Linked DNA regions of Homo sapiens. The main gene of each other region encodes a partner of the protein of the gene in region 2 in a complex. Each region holds a gene or a part of one and is shown on either strand. Other genes may lie near its edges. A codon is read from its position in the direction of its gene.

What was found.
Region 1: the proteins of XIAP (region 2) and TAB1 are in contact, whole or in part, in a crystal structure (PDB 2POP), measured with the Homo sapiens proteins. Residues at the interface, in NP_001158.2 of Homo sapiens: Phe33, Ala34, Ser38, Gly39, Pro41, Ser43, Ala44, Ser45, Thr46, Arg49, Tyr75, Ser78, Ala79, Val80, Gly81, Arg84, Phe92, Ile93, Gly95, Tyr97, Leu98; in NP_006107.1 of Homo sapiens: Glu99 (codon at 6,067), Ala100 (codon at 6,070), Arg103 (codon at 6,079), Thr201, Gln202, Leu203, Glu212, Asp213, Phe216, Arg217, Gln220, Arg241, Glu269, Glu271, Ile272, His273, Ala275, Gln276, Pro277.
Region 3: the proteins of XIAP (region 2) and CASP3 are in contact, whole or in part, in a crystal structure (PDB 1I3O), measured with the Homo sapiens proteins. Residues at the interface, in NP_001158.2 of Homo sapiens: Ala137, Leu140, Leu141, Gly144, Gln145, Val146, Val147, Asp148, Ile149, Ser150, Asp151, Thr152, Ile153, Tyr154, Asn226, Leu231, Gly232, Arg233, Asn234; in NP_001341706.1 of Homo sapiens: Tyr204, Trp206, Arg207, Asn208, Ser209, Lys210, Asp211, Trp214, Gln217, Lys242, Thr245, Glu246, Phe247, Glu248, Ser249, Phe250, Phe252, Thr255, Phe256.

What each region holds. Positions count from the first base shown.
Region 1 is NC_000022.11:39,409,558-39,416,779, forward strand, and holds part of TAB1 (TGF-beta-activated kinase 1 and MAP3K7-binding protein 1), read left to right. Parts: intron 1-5,448; coding exon 5,449-5,585; intron 5,586-5,942; coding exon 5,943-6,096; intron 6,097-7,222. UniProt on the Homo sapiens protein: Key adapter protein that plays an essential role in JNK and NF-kappa-B activation and proinflammatory cytokines production in response to stimulation with TLRs and cytokines.
Region 2 is NC_000023.11:123,902,213-123,912,052, reverse strand, and holds part of XIAP (E3 ubiquitin-protein ligase XIAP), read right to left. Parts: intron 5,066-9,840; coding exon 4,872-5,065; 3' UTR 1-4,871.
Region 3 is NC_000004.12:184,623,338-184,632,487, forward strand, and holds the end of CASP3 (caspase-3 isoform a preproprotein), read right to left. Parts: intron 9,060-9,150; coding exon 8,931-9,059; intron 8,604-8,930; coding exon 8,428-8,603; intron 7,821-8,427; coding exon 7,700-7,820; intron 6,165-7,699; coding exon 5,935-6,164; 3' UTR 4,359-5,934; downstream 1-4,358. UniProt on the Homo sapiens protein: Thiol protease that acts as a major effector caspase involved in the execution phase of apoptosis. Following cleavage and activation by initiator caspases (CASP8, CASP9 and/or CASP10), mediates execution of apoptosis by catalyzing cleavage of many proteins.

The DNA.
Region 1 (7,222 bases), on a different chromosome or scaffold from region 2:
CCGTAAACCTGACATGCTTTTTTCCATCTTAGGGTCTTTTTACGTTCCGCTCCCTCTGCCTGGAAGCCTCCTTCTCTGCCTTCTAGAAGGTCACTGCCCCATAGTCATTCAGGTCTGGCTCAGACGTCACCTCCCCAGAGAGGTCTGCTTTTCTGACCACTTCATCTAGAGGCCCCCACCGCCCATCACGCTGTGTCCCATTACCATGGTGTGTTTTCTTCCTAGCACGTAGCGCTGTCTGAGATTGCCTTATTATTGTATTGTGTGTTTGAATTCTCTCTCTCCCTAGAAGGGAGGCTTCAAATAAGGAGCCTCTCTGTTTTCTCTTCTGTGTCCGCAGTACCCAGAATACTGCCAGACTGTTGCAAATGCTCAGCAGATATTTATTGAAAGAATGTATGTAGTGATTTAATGTACTGTAATCACATAATATCATATGTGGGTCCGGAAGACCTAAGTTCCCATTTATGTTAAGAGAGGCATTAATTTTGCTTTAAAATGAAACAGTTCAAGATTAGAACTAGACCCAATTTTGTGTTACTGTGAAGCCGTTTTTCTTCTTCTTTTTGAGACTGAGTCTCACTCTGTCATCCAGGCTGGAGTGCAGTGGTGTGATCTCAGCTCACTGCAACCTCCACCTCCTGCATTCAAGTGATTCTCCTGCCTCAGCCTCCTGAGTAGTTGGAATTACAGGTGCGCACCACCACGCCTGGCTAATTTTTGTATTTTTAGTAGAGACAGGATTTTGCCACATTGCCCAGGCTAGTCTCAAACTCCTGACCTCAAGTGATCCACCTGCCTCAGCCTCCCCAAGTGCTGGGATTACAGGCGTGAGCCACTGTGCCAGGTCAGCAGTTTTTCTTTTGGCGTTGCTTGTACTGAAAGTGTTAAATTTAAGCCTGGTGTCATGAGGAGCTGAGCAGAATTGTTGCCATTTCTACTTTTTTTTTTTTTTAATTTAGTTGTGACATACTTGGCTCAGCTAGCACTTACTGCCATTTCATCTTCCTTTTTTTTTTCATTTCCATTAGTAGGGTTTGGTTATACTGTCTATTTTCAAAGGCTATTAGAAGGCGTTAGTAGCTTTTCAGACCTTGTAGTAAAATTGTGTTAATAAAAATAAATAAATAAAAGTCACCCAGTGAAGACATAAATAAGTGTAGAGACACACCATGTTAATGGATTAGAAGACTCAACATAGTGACAATGTCTACTTTCCCCAAATTGATCTGTAGATTTAAAGCAGTTCCAATAAAAATCCCAACAAGACTTGTGGATATAAGTAAGCTGATTCTAAAATTTATATGAAAAGGCAAAGGAACTCAAATAGCCAAAACAATTTTGAAAAAGAGCAAGAAGATAAGGAGACTCACACTAGCCAATTTAAAGACTTACTATAAAGCTACAGTAATCAAGAATGTAGTATTGGTGGAGGGGTAGACACATCGATCACAGGAACAGAATAGAGTCTAGAAGTAGACCCACACAATTCAATGGAGAAAAGCTAGTCTTTTCAACAAATGGTGTTGGAATGATTGGATATTGGAATGAAAAAAAAAATGGACCTAAACCTCCTTCCTACCTTACACAGAAATTAATTCAAAATGGATCACAGATCTAAATGTAAAATATAAAACTATAAAACTTTTAGAAAAAAACATAGGTGCTCTTTGTAACTTGGGACTGGACAGAGAGTTCTTAAACATGACTCCAAAAGCATGAACCATGAAAGAGAAAAAATGGATTAAATGGACTTCATCTAAACTAAAACCTTTGCTCTGCAAAAGACACTACTGAGTGAAATGCTAAGTTACAAATAAAAAGAACTCTCAGAACACAATAGTTAAGAAAATAACCTAATTTAAAAATAGGCAAAAAACTTGCACTTCACCAAAGAGGATGAGTTGGTGCCAAATAAACACGTGAAAGATACTCAGTGTCGTTAGCCGTTAGGAAGTGCAGATTAAAGTCACGATGAGCTACCACTACCCACCTCTTAGAATATCTAAATTCAGAAAAAGACAATACCACATGGTGGCAAGGACGTGGAGCAGCCGGAACTCAACATTGGAAATGCAAATGGTTCAGCTGCTCTGGAAAACAGTTTGGCAGGTTCTTATAAAGTTAAACATATACTTACCATATGAGCCAGCCCTGTCACTCCTAGGTATTTACCCTGGATAAATGAAAAGTTACATTCATACAAAAACCTGTACATGAATGTTTATAGCATATTTCTTCATAGTTATAAGAAACGAAACAGCCCAAATGTCCTTCAGTGGATGAATGGATAAACAAACTTTACTACATCCGAACAATGGTATATTACTCTATGAAAGAGAGAGAGAGACTGTTGATGCACACAGGCTAACAACTTGGATGAGTCTTAGAGACATAATGTTGAGTGAAAGAAGCCAGTCTCAGGAGGTCATGTTTACTGCATCATTTCATTTATGTGACATTGTGTGACATTGTTTTGTTTTGTTTTGTTTTGTTTGGAGACAGAGTCTCACTCCGTCGCCCAGGCTGGAGTGCAGTGGTGTGCAATCTCGGCTCATGGCAACCTCTGCCTCTCAGGTTCAGGTGATTCTCGTGCCTCAGCCTCTTGAGTAGCTGGAATTACAGGTGTGCGCCACCACGCCCGGCTGATTTTTGTATTTTCAGTAGAGACAGGGTTTCGCCACATTGGCCAGGCTGGTCTCAAATTCCTGGCCTCAAGTGATGAGCCCCTCTTGGCCTCCTAAAGTGCTGGGATTACAGGCGTGAGCCACTGCACCTGGCGTTTAATATGACATTCTTAAAAAGACAAAGCCATAGCAGTGGAAAATAGGTTGCCAGGGATTAGGGGAGGGAGTGCGTTGGGAGTGGAGCTGCCCTGTATCCTGAGAGTGGTGGTAGTTACACACATCTCTACATGTGTCAACATTCACAGATGTGCGTGCCCCAGAAGCCAGTTTTACTCCATGTTAATGTAAAAATAAAACAAACTCCCACACCCTGCAGAAGTTGCTCCAGGGTGCAAAATGTAGAGCTGAAGCACCAAAATAGATAAAAGCAGAATAAAACCAATTATATGAAAAAAAGTGAAGTCACTCCTGTCAGTATATAACTAAACAGAAGCTACAATTTGCCACAAAAGCTAACCACAGGCTTTTTATATATATGATTGCAAAAGCCTGTTGAAGTGGTTTCCACATCCTTTCTGGAAGACTTAACAATAACTTTTAAGAAGTTGCACACAGTATCTGTGTGTGTTTTATTTCTTTTACAGATGATTCACTGTTGGCATATAGAAATGCTACTGATTTTTGTATGTTGATTCCATATCCTGCAACTTTTTTTTTTTTTTTTTTTTTTGAGATGGAGTCTTTTTTTGAGATGGAGTCTCGCTCTGTCACCCAGGCTGGAGTGCAGTTGCACGATCTCGGCTCACTGCAAGCTCCGCCTCCCGGGTTCATGCCATTCTCCTGCCTCAGCCTCCAGAGTAGCTGGGACTACAGGCGCCCGCCACCACACCCGGCTAGTTTTTTGTATTTTTAGTAGAGATAGGGTTTCACCATGTTAGCCAGGATGGTCTCGATCTTCTGACCTCATGATCCACCTGCCTCAGCCTCCCAAAGTGCTGGGATTACAGGCTTGAGCCACCGCGCCCGGCCCATATCCTGCCACTTTACTGAATTTGTTTAATCAGTTCTAATAGTTTTTTGGTGGAATCTAGGTTTTTCCAAATATAAGATTATATCGTCTGCAAACAAGGATCATTTAACATCTTCCTTGCCAGTTTGGATGCCCTCTATTTCTTTCTCTTATCTGGTTGCTCTAGCTTGTGTTTGTTTAATATTTCAATAAAGCTTTCAATACAATTTTTTTTTTTTTGAGACAGAATCTCACTCTTGTCGCCCAGGCTAGAGTGCAGTGGCATGATCTCAGCTCGCTGCAACCTCCGACTCCTGGGTTTAAGCGATTCTCCTGCCTCAGCCTCCCCAGTAGCTGGGATTACAGGCATGCACCACCATGCCTGGCTAATTTTTTTGTGTTTTTAACAGAGACAGAGATGGGGTTTCACCAGGTTGGCTAGGCCGGTCTCAAATTTCTGACATCAAATGGTCCACCCACCTCAGCTTCCCAAAGTGCTGGGATTACGGGCGTGAGCCACTGCACCCAGCCAATACAAATTTTATTTTCCTTGAAATTGAACTGTGGTTCTCCCAGTTATTCCAGTTTGCTGTAGTTCTGCATGGTGGTTCTGGGAGTGCCGTTGTGAACAAAGCGCAGTTTTCAGGTGGGAGGCCAGATTTGGGGCAAGCTTTCAGGGAGAGGCAGGGAATTGCACCTGGGCCTTGCATCAAAGTTGTTCCTGGGGCTTAAAAAGTACAGATGCTCAGGATGTACCCTAGGGAGATCTGGGAAATTCAGAAATTGTGTTTAGGCCGGGGATGGGGCCAGGGCCTGGACCGCTGTGTGAGCGTGTTTAAAGCTCTGCAGTGATTATGCTGAACAGCCTGGTTTGAGATCCTATGGGGTAGAATGGGCATTGCAGACAGGCAGGGATGCTGGAATCAGGGTGCCGTTGGGGTACATGAGAGGGCCATCAGCCAGTCCTGGGTAGGGTCATCCTGAAGGAAGACCTCCTGGAGGTGGTGACTCCTGAGCCAAAGAGTCCCGAAGGACCCGGAGAATTGGTAGGGAAGAAGAGGGAGGGTGTTCATGTGGAGGCAAAGAGCAGGGGATGGACAGGGCTGTAGGCATTTGGGACTGGGAGGGAAGGATGTGGCAGGGGAGATGGGAGAGGACATCGGGGTGGCATGAGGATGTCCTATAAACTAGCTCATAAACTCCGACTTAAAAGCCAGTCTCAGTTACTCTCCCTGGTACTTGGAGGTCCCAGTGCCAGAGAGAGTGACTGAGGCTAGCTTATAAGTCGGAGTTTCTCCAGGCTGGGTCTTAGGTCACCTGAAAGCATCACCCATGGGGAGCGGCCTGCACTGCAGATGTCCCGGGCCCTGCCCAGATCAGTCATTCTGAGGGTGGGGCCTGCAGCCTGCAGTGTTGGTAACCAATGCTCAAGGGATTTCTTTGTAGTGTGCATTTGGAGCCAGTGCAGTAAGAGGTGGGGTCCCCAGAGTTTCCTGCCAAGAGTCTGCGACATTTGTGTGTGTTTCACTAGGTTTCATAACGGCTCACTCCTGGAGGTCATTGCTGCGCCTTACATTTGGGAATGGTGGAGTCTCAGTTTTCCTGGGAAACAAGTTTGTAGACTAGCCATAAAAACAGCAAACCCTTCTGCAGGTGTCTGTTCATACAAACATTATTGTTTTCCAGAAGGAAGTGGAACCCTCTGTGTAGGGCTGCGGGCCTGCTAGGTTTTTGTTGCAGAAGGAATAGGTGAAGTGGGGACTACCCTGCAGACGCGGTGGCGTCTCACGGCTTCCTGGTGTCCTTCCCCAGGAGCAGCAGCCAAGCTGGACAGATGACCTGCCTCTCTGCCACCTCTCTGGGGTTGGCTCAGCCTCCAACCGCAGCTACTCTGCTGATGGCAAGGGCACTGAGAGCCACCCGCCAGAGGACAGCTGGCTCAAGTTCAGGTGTGTGTGCCAGCATTTCTGTGTTGGGCCCGGGGAGTTGGTTGGTTTGCAAGCAAGGAAAGACACCGACCTTGCAGCTTTCTCGTATGGGCTTGCCAGTGACATGTGGCCCGTGAGAGGTGGCCTCTGCTGCTGTCTTGCCAAGGGCCTGCTCTGATGGGGTAGCGTGAGCATGGGGAGGAGGGTATCCCAGAATGTCATAGCCAGAGTGAAATGATGGCTAAAGCAGGGGGACCCAGGAGGGCCCCTGAAGCTGCAGCTGCTGTCGCTTTAGTCTCCCCCAATTCCTTTCCCTTTCTCCCTCCACCTCCGTGAGACCCTGGTCTCAGGCCTCCCTCTGCCCTCTCCCTCTTCCAGGAGTGAGAACAACTGCTTCCTGTATGGGGTCTTCAACGGCTATGATGGCAACCGAGTGACCAACTTCGTGGCCCAGCGGCTGTCCGCAGAGCTCCTGCTGGGCCAGCTGAATGCCGAGCACGCCGAGGCCGATGTGCGGCGTGTGCTGCTGCAGGTAATGGTGCCGGGGCCAACAGTGACCCAGCCACATCATGTCCCCCACCCCAAGGCTTGGGCCCTGCACCTCTAGCATGTTGCCAGGGTTGGTGTGAAGATCCTGCCGGCCCCTTCACCCCAGTAGAGGAGCAGCTCCCAGCGTAGGCCCCCCCACCCAACAGGAGTCCAGGACCAGCCAGCGAGCAGCAGGCCTTCAATGGCTGGCAGAGGAGGTACTGCTGGAGACGGGGGGATTTAGGGATGGGAGCTTGGAGAGAGGTGTGAGGTGGGAGCAGGGCAAGGCCTGGTAGAAATGGGGTCATTTAGAGCTACCCCTTTCTTTCCTATGTGGTCAGGTGCTCAGCCTCCAGGTGCAGGAGCCATCCCTGGGCGTCCAGGAAGGACCTTGCCTCCCCTTTCTGAGGGGCCGCCGCCCTCATTGACTGGTTCCACCTTTCTGCTTGCGCTGTTGGCAGTTTTCCTCCTGGCATCTGCTTTCAGGAGCATGTCTCAGGCCCATTTCAGATGAGAAGATGGGCTTCTGTTCCCGGAGAGGGGTGGTGCCAGCCTTTTCCTGCCCTTCACGACCTCAGGCTCCATTGCCAGTGATTCTCAGCAGATCTCACACAGGGGGAGAAGGTGTCAGTGTCACCAGTGTCCTGGGGCTGGTGGGGTTTGACAGAAGCCTCCCAGAAAGAAGTTGTAGTAATCATACGAGCTGTCATAGGCCTGGCAGTTTCTCTGAGCAGTTGCCTTGCTGAGTGCCAGGTTGGACTGTCTTACCTAACCCCTGGAACAACACTTAACCTCCGTTGTGTGAGACTGAGGGGGCCAGAGGTCACACCAGCTGGGCCTACGCCAAGCCTTTGCTCTTAGCTTCCGCACTGTCTCCTGCCTCCCAGCCGTCTGCAGTGCTGCCTCTGCAGGGTGCACACCCCTTCGAGGCTGAAGGGCTTTGTCAAAGACATTGATCTGCAGGAAGCAGCCGGTGCCTTGCAGTGCTGGGCCAGAGGCAGGACTGACATGTGGAAAGCTCCATCACACAAGAACCTGCAGTGAAGACAGCAAAGCTGCTGCTCTGATTAATAGAGGACATTTTGGCACCAGTGACAGTGGTGTTTTGAACCAGCCTTTGCCCTGTCCTG
Region 2 (9,840 bases):
TAAACATTTGGACCTTTCAAGAAAGGTAGCTTGGTGAAGTTTTTCACCTTCAAACTATGTCCCAGTCAGGGCTCTGCTACTAATTAGCTATAATCTTTGCACAAATTACATCACCTTTGAGTCTCAGTTGCCTCACCTGTAAAATGAAAGAACTGGATACTCTCTAAGGTCACTTCCAGCCCTGTCATTCTATAACTCTGTTATGCTGAGGAAGAAATTCACATTGTGTTAACTGTATGAGTCAAACTGAAAATGATTATTGAAGTGGGAAAAAGCCAATTGCTTCTCTTAGAAAGCTCAACTAAATTTGAGAAGAATAATCTTTTCAATTTTTTAAGAATTTAAATATTTTTAAGGGTTTGACCTATTTATTTAGAGATGGGGTCTCACTCTGTCACCCAGACTGGAGTACAGTGGCACAATCATAGCTCACTGCTGCCTCAAATTCATGGGCTCAAGTGATCCTCCTGCCTCTGCCTCCAGAGTAGCTGCGACTATGGGCATGTGCCACCACGCCTGGCTAACATTTGTATTGACCTATTTATTTATTGTGATTTATATCTTTTTTTTTTTTTGAGACAGAGTTTTGCTCTTGTTGCCCAGGCTGGAGTGCAATGGCACGATCTTCGCTCACCACAACCTCCGCCTCCTGGGTTCAAGCGATTCTCCTGCCTCAGCCTCCCAAGTAGCTGGGATTACAGGCATGAGCCACCACGCCCAGCTAATTTTGTATTTTTAGTAGAGACGGGGTTTCTCCATGTTGGTCAGGCTGGTCTCGACCTCCCGACCTCAGGTGATCTGCCCGCCTCGGCCTCCCAAAGTGCTGGGATTACAGGCATGAGCCACCGCGCCCAGCTGATTTATATCTTATCTATGAGAAACACCAAAAACTATGAGTAAGCATCACTGAGTTATCATGTAAGAATTTTTTCTAAGTTTTAGCCCAAATTTCCAGGTCAAGACAAACCCACAGAGAGGTAAAAGGGTATTAGGATGGGAGTTCATATTTACAGCAGGAACTTTACATACATGGTCTCCTTGAGCTCTTGCAACCTTGTAAGATAAGTATTATTTTCCTTTCACAGATGAATAAACTGCTACCCTTTTTTTAACAAGTAGATTTGACTAAAAAGAACTATGTCAAATATTGCTTCCCATTTTCTTATTTCTTTTTTTTTTTTTTTTGAGACAGAGTCTTGCTCTGTTGCCCAGGCTGGAGTGCAGTGGCGAGATCTCGGCTCACTGCAAGCTCTGCCTCCCGGGTTCACACCATTCTCCTGCCTCAGCCTCCCGAGTAGCTGGGACTACAGGCGCCCGCCACCACGCCCGGCTAATTTTCTGTTTTTTAGTAGAGACGGGGTTTCACCGTGTTAGCCAGGATGGTCTCGATCTCCTGACCTCGTGATCCACCTGCCTCAGCCTCCCAAAGTGCTGGGATTACAGGCGTGAGCCACTGAGCCCAGCCCCATTTTATTTCATTTCTCTAACAGCAATGATATATATACATCCCATAGTATATCCTACTGATATACTAGCCCCTTTCCCCATTCAACACCTGTGTAATCAGGAAATAAAACAATGATTCGGGTTTAAAGGGTATATCATGTGAAACTAATGCTGGGGCGGTAGTCTCCATTCATAGTTCAAAATACAAATTTTATCCACTAAAATGGAAACACAAAAAACAACTACTGAAATGTAAATAATATAACAACAAAAATAACAAAATATCATAATACACAGGGCCAAATCACATTATATACACTCACTACACCCACTCTACCCTACCTTAGCCCGTAATCAAAGGGACAGGGGAAAAAACCAAATGTAGCAGGAAAGGCAATATAAAGCTATTAATTAATTAACTGGAATTTAGTTTGTAAATGCTAAAACCAGTTCTCAAAAATTAAGACAATGCTTTTGATCAGCAGACTAAATTATTACAAATAAAGATAAGTACTTATTGCAAAACTACTTGAATCTTTGCATGACTAAAATGTAAAATAAGTGGTGACTTGAAATCCTAGAGTGAACTTTATACAGAAAAGGAATAGTCTACATGTAGACACTGAGAACTCTTGGGAGGGGGAAAAGATTTGGATATGGCTATAGTTTTGACTTTGCAAATGATCAATTTTTGCGGAATTAGATGGAAAAGATCCGGTGCTTTTTATAGTTCAAACACAGACAAATGCTGTTAAGTCTCCAAAAATTTGATTAGAAGTTGGAGTGCTGAGTGATTTTAAGAACCTGAAGCAACAGCATTTCTAAACAATTCTTAAAATAAACTTGTTAGCCACATCAGCGTTGTGCATTAAATTTCACAACTCATGGAGAGGAAGAAAAAAAGTCTTGCTTAACTCTAAACATACAAGTTTTAGAAGAATTTTAATGAAGTGCGGCTCCCAGAACAGGAAAAGCCTTATGTTAAAACAATTCAGTCCTTGAGTCCTTGGCTAACAACTAGATTGAACTACCTACCTGACTTGGAAGTGAAGTGTCCTGGAAAACATATTTTAAAAATTTTAACACTTTTCTCCCCTTGTAGAAAACTTTAAATTTAAAGTCTAGACTATACAGACCAAATTCAAGTTAATGACTATATAACCAAACTAAGTGGCAGACAGTGCAAAGGTGAAGAACTGAGGATTTACATACTAAAACAGAAACAGGGCAGTCATTATTTAATTTTTAAAACTCTCATTTAAATTTGCAATGTTTTAGCCGGGCGTGGTGGCTCAAGCCTGTAATCCCAGCACTTTGGGAGGGCAAGGCGAGTGGATCTCTTGAGGTCAGGAGTTTGATACCAGCCTGGCCAACATGGTGAAACCCCGTCTCTACTAAAAATAAAAAAAAATTAGTCGGGCATGGTGGCACCTGCCTGTAATTCCAGCTACTCAGGAAGCTGAGGCACGAGAATCGCTTGAACCCAGAAGGCGGAGGTTGCAGTGAGCAGAGATCACTCCACTGCACTCCAGCCTGGGTGACAAGCAAGACTCCATCTCAAAAAGAAAATTAAATAAATAAAATAAATTTGCAATGTTTTAAATGAATATCACTTAAAGTAGTAATCAACAGAAGTTAGGAGAACATAACAATACTCTTTCTCTTAGAAAGTACAACAAAAATATAATTTTTTACAGTTTTACTCTCAAACTTTCCTCTGTAGTAACATGCCTTACTCACCTCTACAATAGGTTTGTTGTGAGAATCTTGTAATGTAAACCCTGGACGTTCTATGAAGCATTTTTAAACTTCTAGTTTATACCCTACTGATTCTTATTCAAGTGTTTTTTAAAAAATATTTAAACAACTATTCTTCTTTTCTTGCCAATATTTTTATAATTTCCAAGAGGTTTTAAGGATCTTGAGAGAACATTTATTTCAGAAGTATCTACTACTATTACTAGCCAAGAAAACAAATGTAGGTAGAGGAAAGACTTAACATTTTGTCCTATATACATCTTAATCATCCTAACGGTAAAAACTCACATGAAACTTTAAGATACAAGATGATATGAGAATCTCAACATGGAAAGCTGTCACTATAACTACAAGCAGTGTACAAACATGCTTCTACTTTTACCTACATAAGCTGACAGATGTTTAAAATACTGAGTTAACAAAGATCTTTTAGTAAAGTGACTTAGGCAGGCTTAAACTAGCAAGGATTAAGGATGAATCCTTACTAATTAATTGGAAGATCTGAGACATATTTTATATTTCATTTTACAAAATCAGAAATACTTATTTTGAAACAAGATAAGACATGGTCTACCTGTCAAAAAACTACCACTCAGAAATATTTTTCATCCACAAAGCAGGAAAAACATAAAATCATTTACATTTCACATTGGCACCAAAAAGGTTAACTGCCCTGCCTTCTTGGATTAGAAAAACTAAAGCTGAGTGATAAGTAGTTTTGCAGGCGTTTGAACATGCCTAAGCCTTTAAATCAGCAAAATACTTTCTAAAAATTCTGATTACAAAAGTAATACATACTTATAAAAAATTCGAACAGAACAAAATGAAAAAAGTAGAAAGTGAAAAGGCCCCTATAAAACCCCTCTGGGGCCCCTCCCCCAATCCCCCCCTCCCCGAAGAGAAACCACATTTAACAGTTTGGTGTATATCTTTCCAAATCTTTTGTTCTATGCATATTAAAAACATACATACTTTGATCTGGCTCAGACTATACATAGTGTTTTGCCACTTGCATTTTACACTTAACATATCTTTGACATCTTTCCATGTCAGTACATGTTGGCTCGATAGTATTCTATCATTAAATACGCTTTCAAAAATGGCAAATCACTTTAAAAAAATAATTCGCACAAGTACGTGTTTATAACTTTAAAAGAAAATGGACAGAATCCTAAAACACAACAACCAACCTCTAAAAACAATCTCTATCTTTCCACCAGCATGGAACAATTTATTCCTTTTTCACACAAAACAAATTATGTGATTGGGGAGATTAACTCTAATCTCCACATTTATATACAGAAAGCTCCATTTGTTAAGCCTATCTGAAAAGAATAAAAAATCCAGATGATTAATTCACTTACACTTAGAAATTAAATCAGTATACTATGAATACACATTGTGTTCAGTTATAGTATGATGCTTCTTATTCTTAGTCTATGGTTTCAATTAAATAACAGTAAAAAAAATGGATAATACAGCTAATACCCTGAAAAATCAAGAAATTCAAAGATTATATTGCCAACTAAAACACTGCCATGTACATTTTTTTTCCTACTTGGTAGCAAATGCTAATGGAATTCAATCCTGATTACTTAAAGTCAGTTCACATCACACATTCAATCAGGGTAATAAGAACAACATAACATGCCTACTATAGAGTTAGATTAAGACATAAAAATTTTTTGCTTGAAAGTAATGACTGTGTAGCACATGGGACACTTGTCAACTGCTTCAGCACATTGTTTACAAGTGACTAGATGTCCACAAGGAACAAAAACGATAGCAATATTTCTATCCATACAGATTTTGCAAAGCTTCTCCTCTTGCAGGCGCCTTAGCTGCTCTTCAGTACTAATCTCTGCAAAAAGAGAAAATAATTATGCTAGTTTTAGACTCTCTTAGTTGTTTAAATTCATTGAAAACATTTATTGAGCCCCTACTACGTGCCAAGCACCCAACAAGTGCCGGGAGATATGAGGATGACTCACCCGTGGCATCTGCTCTTAAATAGCTCACACGCTAGTGGGAGAGGATGTAAGATGAGGCTAGGAGGTTAAGCACAAAGTACAAAGTGATAAGTGCTATAATAAAGTTATGTACAAAGTGCTCTGGGACAAGATGAGAAAACAAGTTCTTCTGCTCAGGCTAGTTGGAGAAGGCTTCACAGGTTGGCAGTGGCTGGATCGGGGGAGGAGGGAAGTGGAGGAGTGACATTTAAGCATGGACAGTCATTTGCCAGGCAGAAAAACAAGGGTTAGGTAAAAGGAGCAGCATATGGAAAGGTCACGACTAATTCCAGAAATAGAGGGATGGATTTGAGGGACACTTCTGAAGTGGGACAAGTAGGATTGGGTGACTGACTGGATATGAGGGCTGAAGAAGAAAGACAAACTAAAGTTGATTACAAGATTGCTAGCTTGGCTGACAAGGATATGGTGATGCCAATAAGAAATATAAAAGGAGGTACAGGTTTGGGATCTTCAGATATTTTTGAGGTGTTTTCAGGACACCCATATAAAAATAACCAGTAGGCAACTGAAGAGTCAAATCTTGAGGTCAGGAGAAGTCAGGGCTAGAGATAGAGATCTGGATGTCATCAGCATATAGGTGGCACTGAAGTACTTGCTTAATTCAGCCTTTCCCAAAATAGTTTTGTGAAATGTGAATAAATATGCCACAAAACATGTGTTTCATGGTCACATATAACAATAATGACAACAGCAGCAGCAGTTACCAGTAATATTGCATAAATAGTACGTGCTAGGCACTATTCCAAATGCATTACATATTTTAACTATACCTTTGTGATCACAACTATTTATTTATTTTAGCATCTTTATAATCATTATGTACCAGTGGTTTCCAAATATGGCCTCACATGAGAATAACCTGGGGCATTTTTAAACCACGGATTTCTGGGCTCCATTCACAGAATCTAAAATTTCTGGGGTTGGGCACACTGGCGTTTGAGAACCACTGTCATCCAGGACAGGGCAGTACAGTACAATATAGGACAGTATAGTCTATGTTCCCTCTTAGAAATGTACAAGGCATTTCCCTATTTAACTATGGGGTTCCTTTTTCATGGCATCCTTTTAACATCCTGCTGAACACTATTCTGAAAACATGTTTGGAAAACAATAGTTTATTCAAGAAATACTTACTGGACACTTAACTAGGTTCTAGGTACTAGGGATACAATTAACAAATACATAAACCTCAGGCCCCCAATAGTTCATAGACAAGTAAAGAACACAAGCAAACAGGAAAGTATAAATGGTATGATGACAAAGGTAATTACAATGTGTTATGAAGAGCACAGGAAGGGTGTGTGTGCGTGTGTGTGCATGCATGCATAAACGAAGGCCTCCTGGAGGAAATTATACCTAAAACTGGGTACAAAAGAATGAATTAGGAGTTTACTAGGAGAAGGAGGCCTTGGGGGATAAGGGCAATGGGAGAAAAGTGTTTTAGGCAAAGGAAACAGCATAAACAAGCTCCAAGGAGAGAGACAGAACGTGGCCTACAAGTGCACAGGCAAAGCTTGGGCACAGAATTTGAGAAAATAGCATGAGATGAGGCTACAAAAGGGTGCCTGATCATGAAAGATTAGGCGAGCCACGTAAAGGAGTTTGGACTTGATCCCAAGGGTCCTGGGAGGCAGTGAAGGGTTTTAAACTAGAGACAGATATGATCACATCTATGTCTCAGAAAGGTTTCTCTGGCTAGGGGGTAGAGGAAAGGATTGTTTAATCTCTTTCTTCTTAAAAAGTACCCTCTTGGGCATAATAAAAACTATAGGCTCAAACATGGAATGCATCAGAGATAAGAAGATAAAGCACTTACCCTTAAGAAGCTTGGTCTAATGGGCAGGGCAGAAACCAGTCCCAAAATAGTGTAAAAAGCAAAATGCTCAGCCAGGCCTGGTGGCTCACGCCTGTAATCCCAGCACTTTGGGAGGCTGAGGCGGGCAGATCATTTGAGGTCAGGAGTTCAAGACTAGCCTGGCCAACATGGTGAAACCCCATCTCTACTAAAAATACACACAAAAAAAATTAGCTGGGTGTGGTGGCGCATGCCTGTAATCCCAGCTACTCGGGAGGCTGAGGCAGCAGAATCGCTTGAACCTGAGAGATAGAGGTTGCAGTGAGCTGAGATTGTGTGCCACTGCACTCCAGCCTGGGCGACAGAGCGAGACCCTGTCTCAAGAAAAACAAAACAAAACAAAATAAAACAAAACAAAACTCTACCAGCACCAGGAGTAGATAAGAAGGAGCTCCTAACTCTGCTGTGGGTGCGGGAGAAAACTTGAAAGAAGTGACTTCTGAGCTGAACCTTGAAACATGAGTTCACAAAGTAGATTCAGGGAGTTGGGGGTAGAGTGGGGAATGGGACTAGGTATACAGATAGAGAAAACGTACTCAAGGCAGAGGAAAAAATACAAGTAAAGAAACGGCACTATAAGCTGATTTATATTATAAGAAAGCATCAACACCAAAAAAAGTCAGAATGAAGTGTGTATTTCATGCCAAAAAAATCAAAAGGAGAACAAGTAATTTCCACATTACTTTTAGATGTAATGCTACAACGAGTTAAAAACAAACAAACAGGCTGGGCGCGGTGGCTCACGCCTATAATCCCAGCTCTCAGGGAGGCAGAGGCGGGAGGATAGCTTGAGCCCAGGAGTTCGAGACCTGCCTGAGCAATATAGTGAGACCCCGTTCTCCACAAAAAGGAAGAAACAAACAAACAAACAAAGCAACAACAATACTGACACCTAGAGTAGTCAAATTTATAGAGACAAAAAGTAAAATGGTAGTTGCCAGGGGTTGGGAAGAGAGGGAATGGGGAGTTGTTTAATGAACATGTTTTTATTATTATTATTATTTTTTAAAGATAGGGTCTTGCTCTGTATCCCAGGCTGGAGAGCAGTGGTGCAATCACAGCTCATTGCAGCCTTGAGCTCCTGGTCTCAAGCAATCCTCCTGCCTCAGCCTCCCAAGCAGCTGGAACTACAGGCGTGTGCCACCACGCCTGGCTGTTTAATGGATGTAGAGTTTCGGTTTTGCAAGATGAAGAGTTCTGGAGGTTGACTGTGCAACAATGTAAATGTACTTAACACTACGGAACCATACACTAAAAATGGTTAAGATGGTAAACTGTATGTGTATTTTATCACAATTTTTTAAAATCTAAAAAAAACAAAAAACAAAACAAAAAAAAAAACTGAAACAAACCCCAAAACACTGGACCAGAAGTCAGGAAATCTGAATTCTATTCCCAACTATCGGCGTGATCCTAGGCAACAGCCCATCTGTACTTCAGGTTCCCAATTAAGGTCATAAAAGTTATAAAATGGGCTGGGTGCAGTGGTTCATGCCTGTAATCCCAGCACTTTATGAGGCCGAGGCGGGCAGATCACCTGAGGTTGGAAGTTGGAGACCGGCCTGACCAACATGGAGAAACCCCGTCTCTACTAAAAATACAAAATTAACAGGGTGTGGTGGCACATGCCTATAATCCCAGCTACTCAGGAGGCTGAGGCAGGAGAATTGCTTGAACCCGGGAGGTGGAGGTTGCAGTGAGCCAAGATTGCACCATTGCATTCCAGCCTGGGCAACAAAAGTGAAACTCCGTCTCCAAAAAAAAAAAAAAAAAAAAAAAATTATAAAATAATCTTTAAGGTTCCTTTGGTTCTGATTGTTTGTGATACCATATCATCTCATTTTTTTCTATATTATTTCATCCTTGTATAAAGCCACTAACTTGAGATGGTGATATTCTGGGCATAGATCTTTTCCCCTCAGACCAGTAGTTTACCACTGGCAATTACTTCCCTCTTGGCTTAAAGGTAACTACTGGATTCTACATACTTCTCTACAGCGCCTTTCCCCTTCTCCTCCCCACAAAGCCCTCTTCTAGGTCAGAAGGTTACTGGCACATGAGCAATAAAGGCTAGATAACTTTTGATGTTATTTGCTAATATTTGTAATTATTTAAAACCTCTTCTAGAATAAACTGATGTTATTCATTTTACTATTAGAGCAGATTCATATGGAAAGACAGATAAGAAATGAATATGGGTTATTTGATTTTTATATTATATACAGTAATATATATACACATAAAGATTAAAATAAGTACTTTAGTACATATACTAAATAAAGGGCTTTATCTTACACTACATAATTTTTTCAAAGAAAGAAAAAAAGATACTGATTCGGTACTATTTTTACAAGACCTTTTACTAGGGCATTCTCTGTTACACAGCCATTGGCAAAAAAGTTTAGCACTAAATCTAGGATTTCTCAGTAAGTGACAATGTTATATTTTCTCTAATAACCCTCACCTGCTTCACTTCAGTTAGCCCCATCCTTATTTTATATAAAATTAAAAGATTCTTAGTGCCAGTCTTTCCTCATCAGCTTTTGGGAAGACAAATAGGCAGCAGTCCCAGCATGAGTAGAGAGCCTGTATCAATTACTTGCCTCTCAATTTAGTGAGACTGAGGAGAGTTCAAATGAATTCCAACCCTTAGGCTCTCCTTCCCACACCATCCTAGTTTGTAGTCTCAGTGATAATATGAGCGCCCATTGACTCCTGTTAGATAGAGAAAAGACACTCTCCCTAATG
Region 3 (9,150 bases), on a different chromosome or scaffold from region 2:
ACTGCATTTGACTTGAATCTGTTATCTATTATTTCTTAATTGTCTATGCAATGGACCCACAGACTTTCACATGTGAACACTTACTTTTTCTTGCTCTGGATCAACTGAAATTCAGACAAATCTGAAAAGAAATGACTTAAATTGGAGTATTTATTTAATCTATGGAAAGTTCTGACATCTTACTGATAATGATGACATAATAAAGGGCACAACAAGCATGTTTTATTAAAAAGTTTCTAACGGACAGATCAGTGCCATTTCTAGTCACAGCTGCTTCTCACTGCCTGAGTCTCACCAAGGAGAGAAATTTTTTGAGTTCAAGTTTATTTCAAGTGTTAAGTGAAATTTTATTTTAGTGGATTAGAGTATTGCTTCCCGAATGCGGTTTCAACTTGCAAAATGTTAGATCCTGAGGAATGTGTGTGTGTGCATGTGTGACAAGCCTTTCCTTGGAAGTATTATCCTTTAATCTGGGATTATGTCCCTACTTATTTTGGGGTTGAGAGGGAAATGAGGAGGTGGGAGTTAAAATGTCTTTCTTGTTATGAATAATGGGTGATAGCTTTAAAAAATCTGGCAAAAATGAATGATGGATTTTTTTCAAATCCATAAAATCAAAAGTTTGTAAACACAACTAAGTTATGTCACCTTATCTTTTTTTTTGAGACAGAGTCTCGCTCTGTCGCCCAGGCTGGAGTGCAAAGGCATGGTCTTGGCTCACTGCAACCTCTACTTCCCGGATTCAAGCAATTCTCCTGCCTCAGCCTCTCCAGTAGCTGTGATTACAGGTGCCCACCACCATGCCCGGCTAATTTTTGTATTTTTAGTACAGATGTGTTTCACCATGTTGGCCAGGCTGGTCTCAAACTCTGACCTTGCTATCCGCCCGCCTCAGCCTCCCAAAGTGTTGGGATTACAGGTGTGAGCCACCACGCCCAGCCACATTATTTTATTACTGTTCCCACATAGTGAATCTCATTTTAGCATAAAGTCAATGTCCATACAGAAGAGCACACACCCAACATCCTCACCCTGAGTTCCACATCATTTCTATAATGGTCTCTTGCATGCCACTTCATTCTTCTTAGTCCCACCATTTTCATGACCAAATGTGTGCCCCTCCAATTCAACCTGTTTCTGACCACGGCCTCCATCACTGACCTGTTTCTGACCACAGCCTCCATCACTGACCTGTTTCTGACCACAGCCTCCATCACTGACCTGTTTCTGTCCACAGCCTCCATCACTGACCTGTTTCTGACCACAGCCTCCATCACTGACCTGTTTCTGACCACAGCCTCCATCACTGACCTGTTTCTGACCACAGCCTCCATCATTGACCTGTTTCTGACCACAGCCTCCATCATTGACCTGTTTCTGACCACAGCCTCCATCACTTACCTGTTTCTGACCACAGCCTCCATCATTCAGTGTTAGTGTTCCACTCCTCCCACAACAGTGGATCTTCACGTCCATCAGGGCCATCGGGCCATGGATCACACGTCTTATTCCCTATTAGTCCCTTCTTTTCATTTCTGTGTCTATCCAGCTTGGAGTCCATGGTTCATCAATTTGGAAAGTCATTTTGCAGTACTCCAAAATCTGTGGCTCCTGTCTTTTTAAAATCAATGTGGGAAAAAGCCCAAAGCTGGACAAAGCCAACACATGCGCTATCCATGGCAGTACCCAAGCAGCCGAGGGTCATCAGGTAGATTCACACAGCCGCACGGCCTGGAACCACTGCACATTTGTAATCGCTGGTTTCAAATGGGCCCCTACACATGGCCCAGCAACGTTACTAATCTCTGGTCAACTCCCATTCGTGACAATGATTGTTTCAAGCCTGCCTTACTCTTCTAGCCCTCAATCTATCATCTCCCTAACTTTGAACAGAGTTCTTGTCTTCTGCTTCACAGAAAATATAGAAGTTACAGTAAGGGAACTTCCTGCCACAAAACTACAAATGTAGCTTCACACCCAGCCCATTAAAAAAAAAATAAAAAAGGTTCTTCACTTCTTCACACTCCACCCCCAGCTAGGCTAGAATTTACTGCTTGGGTTCTTAGGAACTCTATACTGTCAGTTACCTTTCCCTCTAGTTAATTTTCAGTGTTTCTCTTAACTGGATCCCCACCATCAGCATTAAACCTATTCAAAGCTCTCTCACTTAAAAACAAAACCCCCAAATCTTCCAACTCACCTTCTTCTCCAGCTCCTTCCCTCTCTCCTGTGTGGAAGCTCCAGTGTATCTAACCTGTCTCCTTCACTATCAGGGGAAACCAGCCCCCGATATTTCACATAGGTTCTTTTCTATTTCTCTAAGTGTTGGCCGGTCTAGAAATAAAGGGAAAGAGTACAAGAGAGAAATTTTAAAGCTGGGTGTCCGGGGGAGACATCACATGTCGGCAGGTTCCGTGATGCCCCCTGAGCCGTAAAACCAGCAAGTTTTTATTAGCAATTTTCAAAGGGGAGGGAGTGTACAAATAAGGTGTGGGTCACAGAGATCACATGCTTCAAGGGTGACGAAAGATCACAAGGCAGAAGGTCAGGGTGAGATCACAAGGTCAGGGCAAAACTGGAATCACTAATGAACTTCTATGTCCCACTGTGCTCACATTGTCATTGATAAACATCTTAACAGGGTTCAAGAGCAGAGAACTGGTCTGACTAGAATTTGCCAGGCTGGAATTTCCTAATCCTAGCAAGCCTGGGGGCGTTGCAGGAGGCCAGGGTGTGTTTCATCCCTTATCTGCAACTGCATAAGGCAGACACCCCCAGAGCGGCCATTTCAGAGGCCCCCTCCCCTCCCCAGAATGCATTCTTTTCCCAGGGCTGTTAATTATTAATATTCCTTACTGGAGAAAGAATTCAGTGATATTTCTCTTACCCATTTTTGGTAATAAGAGAAATATGGCTCTGTTCTGCCCGGCCCACAGGCAGCCAGACTTTAAGGCTATTTCCTTTGTTCCCTGAAAAATCGCTATTATCCTATTCTTAAGGTGCCCAGATTTCACACTGTTCAAACACACATGCCCTATGAACAATTTGTGCAGGTAACACAATCATCACAGGGTCCTGAGGCGACAGACATCCTCAGCTTACGAAGATGACGGGACCAAGAGATCAAAGCAAAAACAGGCATAGGAAACCACAAGAGTATTGACTGGGGAAGTGATAAAGGTTCATGAAATCTTCACAATTTATGTTCCTCTGTCAGAGCCTCAGCAGGTCCCTCCGTTCGGGGTCCCTGACTTCCCGGAACACTTCACAGCTGAGTTGCTGCCATTTTTTAACACCAAAACAACGTTGTGATGAAAAGCTCATATATAATTTTGTACACACACAGGTGTATGGGTAGGCTGGATTCCAAGAAATGGGACTGCTACTTCAAAGAATAATTTGATAGGTATTGTCAGATTCCCCTCCACAGAGTATTTTACCGTATCATACTCCCACCAACGGGAGAGTATACATTTCCCACATCTTGCCAACAGAATATGTCACCAAACTGGGGTTTTTGCCGGTCTGATAGACGACAGATACTTTAATGTGCATTTCTCTTATTATGATGCAGATCAAGCTGTTTATTGAATTTAAGGGACATTTGGGTTTTCTTTTTTCTGTGAACTGTTTGTTCATGTCCTTGGCTCATTTTCCTATTGGGTTGCTGGTCTTTTCCTTTGTATCTGAAACCTCTTTACTTAACAGGGAGACTAGAATAAGCCAGATTTTCCTCAACACTATAGAACCACCGCTTTCATATGGCCTTAAAGAACTCATTTATGCTACTCTCTACTCCTCAGAAACAGAAGTCTCCTTTTCCTAGTTAGGACAATTTATTTTGTTTCTGATTTAAAAGTAATATATTTTCATTACAGAAATATTGGAAGAAATTTAAAACCACCCACAACCCCACTTTCCTATATTCCTTTTCTAAGCATATGAAGTAAAAAGACAGCAAATTCCTCTGTCAAAATCCCAGCGCCCAGAGGAGGCCATCAGTAAACATCAACGGCTTGTTGTATATCCTCTTAGGTTGTTCTTCCCATTAGACACTTATCTTGTGGAAAAAGTTTCAAATTCACACATATGGTCATATTTAAGGCCTGAGATCTATGCAAACAAAGTATCTTCCTGGCATTGTGGTCATTTCAGGGTCAGGAACTTCTGCGAGGACTTGGGAAGCATAAGCGATCTGTCTGCCCTGATCTAACTGCCACCACCTCAAAAAACTAGGCTAGGGTTCTGGTGCTTCCTCTTTGACTCTTCCAAATCAAGCTTCTGATTAAAAACATTTTAACTTCCAATTAGTGGCACAACATCAAAAACAACAGCAACAAAAAACTCAAAGACATTGGTAATTTTAAGTTTGAATGTATATTTTGAAATAAAAATGGAAAATAACAAATTTGTACAAAATTGTCACATAGAAACACACTTTAAGATACCATTACATGCTATGTGTATTTACAAAAGTTACAGGTCTAGTAAGAAAAAAGAAACTGTCATTGACAAATGCGAGCTCATTTTTTGAGCAACAAGAAATCTCCCGTGAAATGTCATACTGACAGCCAGTGAGACTTGGTGCAGTGACGGCTCCGCACCTGCTGAGGCCTGGAGCCTGCCTCCCGGGCTGAGGGCTCAGCTCTGGCCTCCGGCTGGATGCCGTCTAGAGTCCTATGTGCTCATAGGTCTTTTTCTTTCAGTAAACAGTATAAAACATTACTATTTTCCTTTGATTGTAAACTTCAACAGAAAATAACATACTTAAGAATTTTGCTACAAAGAGTACTATGATTTTTATTGCCTCACCACCTTTAGAACATTTCCACTTCACAAGTTTCTGATTTGCTTCACTTTCTTACTTGGCGATGGCGCCCTGGCAGCATCATCCACACATACCAGTGCGTATGGAGAAATGGGCTGTAGGCCCTTCCTGCGTGGTCCATGGCTCTGCCTTCATGGAACAGGCTGAGTCATGTCTCTGCTCAGGCTCAAACCATCTACTCTCAAGTTACAGGCAGCTCAGCCCATTCATTTATTGCTTTCCTTATATTCCACTGTTTATTATTTAAGTTGTATTTTCATATGTTCCTATAGAATTTATTCACATTACCTGGCTAATAATCAACAGTTTGGGGTTTTTATATAATAGCTCTTCAGATATATTGCTGGTATATGAAGCTCAACTGATATGCATAGGGACAAATCAGAAGATATTTATGCTGGTAGATCCAGGGGCATTGTAGCACCTTACAGTTAAAACTCCACCCCTCTATGAATGTTAAGTTTTAGCCTTAAAAGTCAAGTTAGTTTGCTCACACTTTCTCTCACATAAAATATTAGTTTCTTTCTCAATATTAAACATTATTATTATTTTTTTACAACAAAAGTGTTCAGGACAAACATCACAAAACCATAATCCCAGATAAATGGTCTAAAAATGCAGTTAAGTCATCCGTGTATATCAATTCTAAAATAAAGGTTTGAGCCTTTGACCATGCCCACAGATGCCTAAGTTCTTCCACATCATCATTTCTACAGTTTGACAAAACTAGAATACACAGTCTTAAGTGGGGGGAATATCATAAAAATTCATTACTTCAATGTTTAACTTTTTCACAATTACTTGAAAATTCATAGCACAGCATCACTGTAACTTGCTAATCATGAAAGCTGTAAATTAACAATCATTGCCTCTCATAATGACTGCACCAGTATCCATTTTTATTTATTCCTAATTTAATTCAATTGCAACTACCTGACTGGAAGTTTGAGGTAGCTTCATAGTGGTTCTATTTGATGGAAGGAGTATGTCTTAAAGTACCCTCTGCAGCATGAGAGTAGGTCAAAATGAGAGGGAAATACAGTACCAAATATACCATCTTCTCACTTGGCATACAAACTAAAAAAAACCACCAACCAACCATTTCTTTAGTGATAAAAATAGAGTTCTTTTGTGAGCATGGAAACAATACATGGAATCTGTTTCTTTGCATGAAAAGTAGCGTCAAAGGAAAAGGACTCAAATTCTGTTGCCACCTTTCGGTTAACCCGGGTAAGAATGTGCATAAATTCAAGCTTGTCGGCATACTGTTTCAGCATGGCACAAAGCGACTGGATGAACCAGGAGCCATCCTTTGAATTTCGCCAAGAATAATAACCTAAAAGGCAAAATACAAGCAAAATACCATGGATAGCTGATTTTAGTTGATTCTATAAATTATTATGTAGTCATAAAGGCAAAAATAAGCATAAACTTACATAAGTCTTATTAGTCATACAAATAAAAAAAAAAAGACACCTTTGGTTTCAGAAGAAATGATGCTGAAGGACGAATGTGTGCTATGCGTACACCCCCTGCTTTCAGCAAAGCTGGCCGGGGACCAGCTTCACGAACACTGAATTATTGAAAGTTTTACTTTCTGGACTCCCCTTTCAATAGGCAAGAAGAGCAAACACGCAGAAGGTAAGATGCAAAAGTAAAGATGTATAAAAAGGATCATTGTAAGTAGCACAGTGTTCCAATCAGATTTCACCTTATTTTAATACTGACTTAGCCAAGAAACAAATTGCTTTGAGTGTCCTACTTGTCTACAGAGCATCTGAATAAAGTATAATAAACACACTACCAAGTATTGGTCCAAAAAGGGAAAATAGTATATTTATCATACTTTTTTTTCTAGGTTAACTATTAGACCCATTGCTTTTAACTTAGAGGTACTTTGCTTGGAAAGATGCCTAGAGGATAAGATAAACCATATTGAGCATATTTTAAAATGCAACACTGCTTAAGAATACATTTACCTAAAGTTTCCAAACTCTCCGACACCCTTAGCTGTGTGAGTAAATGGTGGTATAATCCACAAATGTTTATTTAGATGATGACGTGTGCAGCAGAACAGTAAAAACGTGGAGGTTAACGGCACATTCATGTATCGTTTTTTACCTTCTTTTCTCCCACTCCACATCTATCCTCTTGTATACTAGTCATGTTTATCTTTTTTATTTACTACCTTTCAAATAACTCCTGAGAAACGTACCTCTCTTCTTCTCTAAGATGCAGGGGAAGCTCTGACTTGGCCTCTGTTGCCACGTAATATTCTACCTGATATTAGTAGCGGAGATCTACCTGATAAAGTCCAATGAATGACATCGTGCTAGTCTACTCTACATATGCATATTTTCTTTTCTTTTTTTCCTTTGAGACGGAGTCTCACTCTGTCGCCCAGGCTGAAGTGCAGTGGTGCGATCTTGGCTCACTGCAACCTTTGCTTCCCAGGTTCAAGCGATTCTCCTGCCTCAGCCTCCCCAGTAGCTGGGATTACAGGCGTGTGCCACCATGCCCAGCTAATTTTTCTGTATTTTTAGTAGAGATGAGGTTGGCCAGGCTGGTTTTGAACTCCTGACCTCAAGTGATCCACCTGCCTCGGCCTCCCAAAGCGCTAGGATTACAGGCGTGAGTCACTGTGCCTGGCTATATATGCATATTTTCTAGCCAAACTTTTGGCTAAAGACAACTTTTTGAGACTTCTCTTTGATGAAGGTTCCCTAAAATATAGACAAGTTTTGATATCTTTAGGGATATCAAAATCTTGACAGTCTCTGAAACACACTTTTCATTGTATAATTCTATGATCAGTCACAGTTAATTCATTTAAAATCCACATGTAACATTCATTATGTGTAACGTTCTCACCAGGTGCTGTGGAGTATGCATACAAGAAGTCGGCCTCCACTGGTATTTTATGACACGCCATGTCATCATCAACACCACTGTCTGTCTCAATGCCACAGTCCAGTTCTGTACCACGGCAGGCCTGGGTGTTAGAAAATAAATATTTATTTATAAAAATTTGTGTGTGAACACATAACTTAGTTCTAAAAAATTGAAATGCTATGTAAAAATGGATGTTAATTGGCCGGGCGCGGTGGCTCACGCCTTTAATCCCAGCAATTTGGGAGGCCAAGGCGGGCGGATGACTTGAGGTCAGGAGATCGAGACCATCCTGGCTAACATGGTGAAACCCTGTCTCTATTAAAAAAAAATTTAAAAATTAGCTGGGCCTGGTGGCAGGCGCCTGTAGTCCCAGCTACTCAGGAGGCTGAGGCAGGAGAATGGCGTGAACCCAGGAGGCAGAGCTTGCAGTGAGCGGAGATCGCGCCACTGTACTCCAGCCTGGGCGACAGAGCAAGACTCTGTCTAAAAAAAAAAAAAAAAAAAAAAAAAAGGATGTTAATTATGCTGAGTCTTTTTGATATAAGTATAAAATTAAAATTTACTCTATATCTTTTAAGTGGTAAATAAATGAAAAGTAACAATAGTTCATTAGCTTCAGGAAAAAAATTATCCTTTGGATAATTTACAGTTGAGAATAGTAACCCCTGCTTAATCGTCAATAACCAAATCACTCAGTTAGACATTACCTGAATAATGAAAAGTTTGGGTTTTCCAGTTAGACTTCTACAACGATCCCCTCTGAAAAAGTTTGTTATTTTTTTCAGGTCAACAGGTCCATTTGTTCCAAAAATTATTCCTTCTTCACCATGGCTCAGAAGCACACAAACAAAACTGCTCCTTTTGCTGTGATCTTCTTTAGAAACTGTAAAGACATTTGCAAATAAAAGGAAAAAAAATCCATGACTTTATTCAACAACTTCAGATATACTGTATGGGAACATGATGAAGAAACTGAGACTAAAACTAAGAGGTCATCTTAACCTAACCTGGGGCACGGCAACACATCTCAAACCATTTTAGGAAGTTGGCATAAATAACTTTTTTTAAACTTCTTACTAAAGTATGTAAGATTAGGGTTATGTACAGTATAATTCCACAATTCTCATATTTTATTATACATATAATTATTGCTAGACCATAGTATAAAATTAATTGTACAATGAAGTTCATTCTAATTGTTTCTTCTTACCATCACGCATCAATTCCACAATTTCTTCACGTGTAAGATCATTTTTATTCCTGACTTCATATTTCAAGTTTCTGAATGTTTCCCTGAGGTTTGCTGCATCGACATCTGTACCAGACCGAGATGTCATTCCTTGGAACAGAAAGAATTACTTTTAATTGTATGGAAAACAAAGAATAACTACTTTGAAATGAAATTAACTACTCAGCAATTCAGAAGTCCA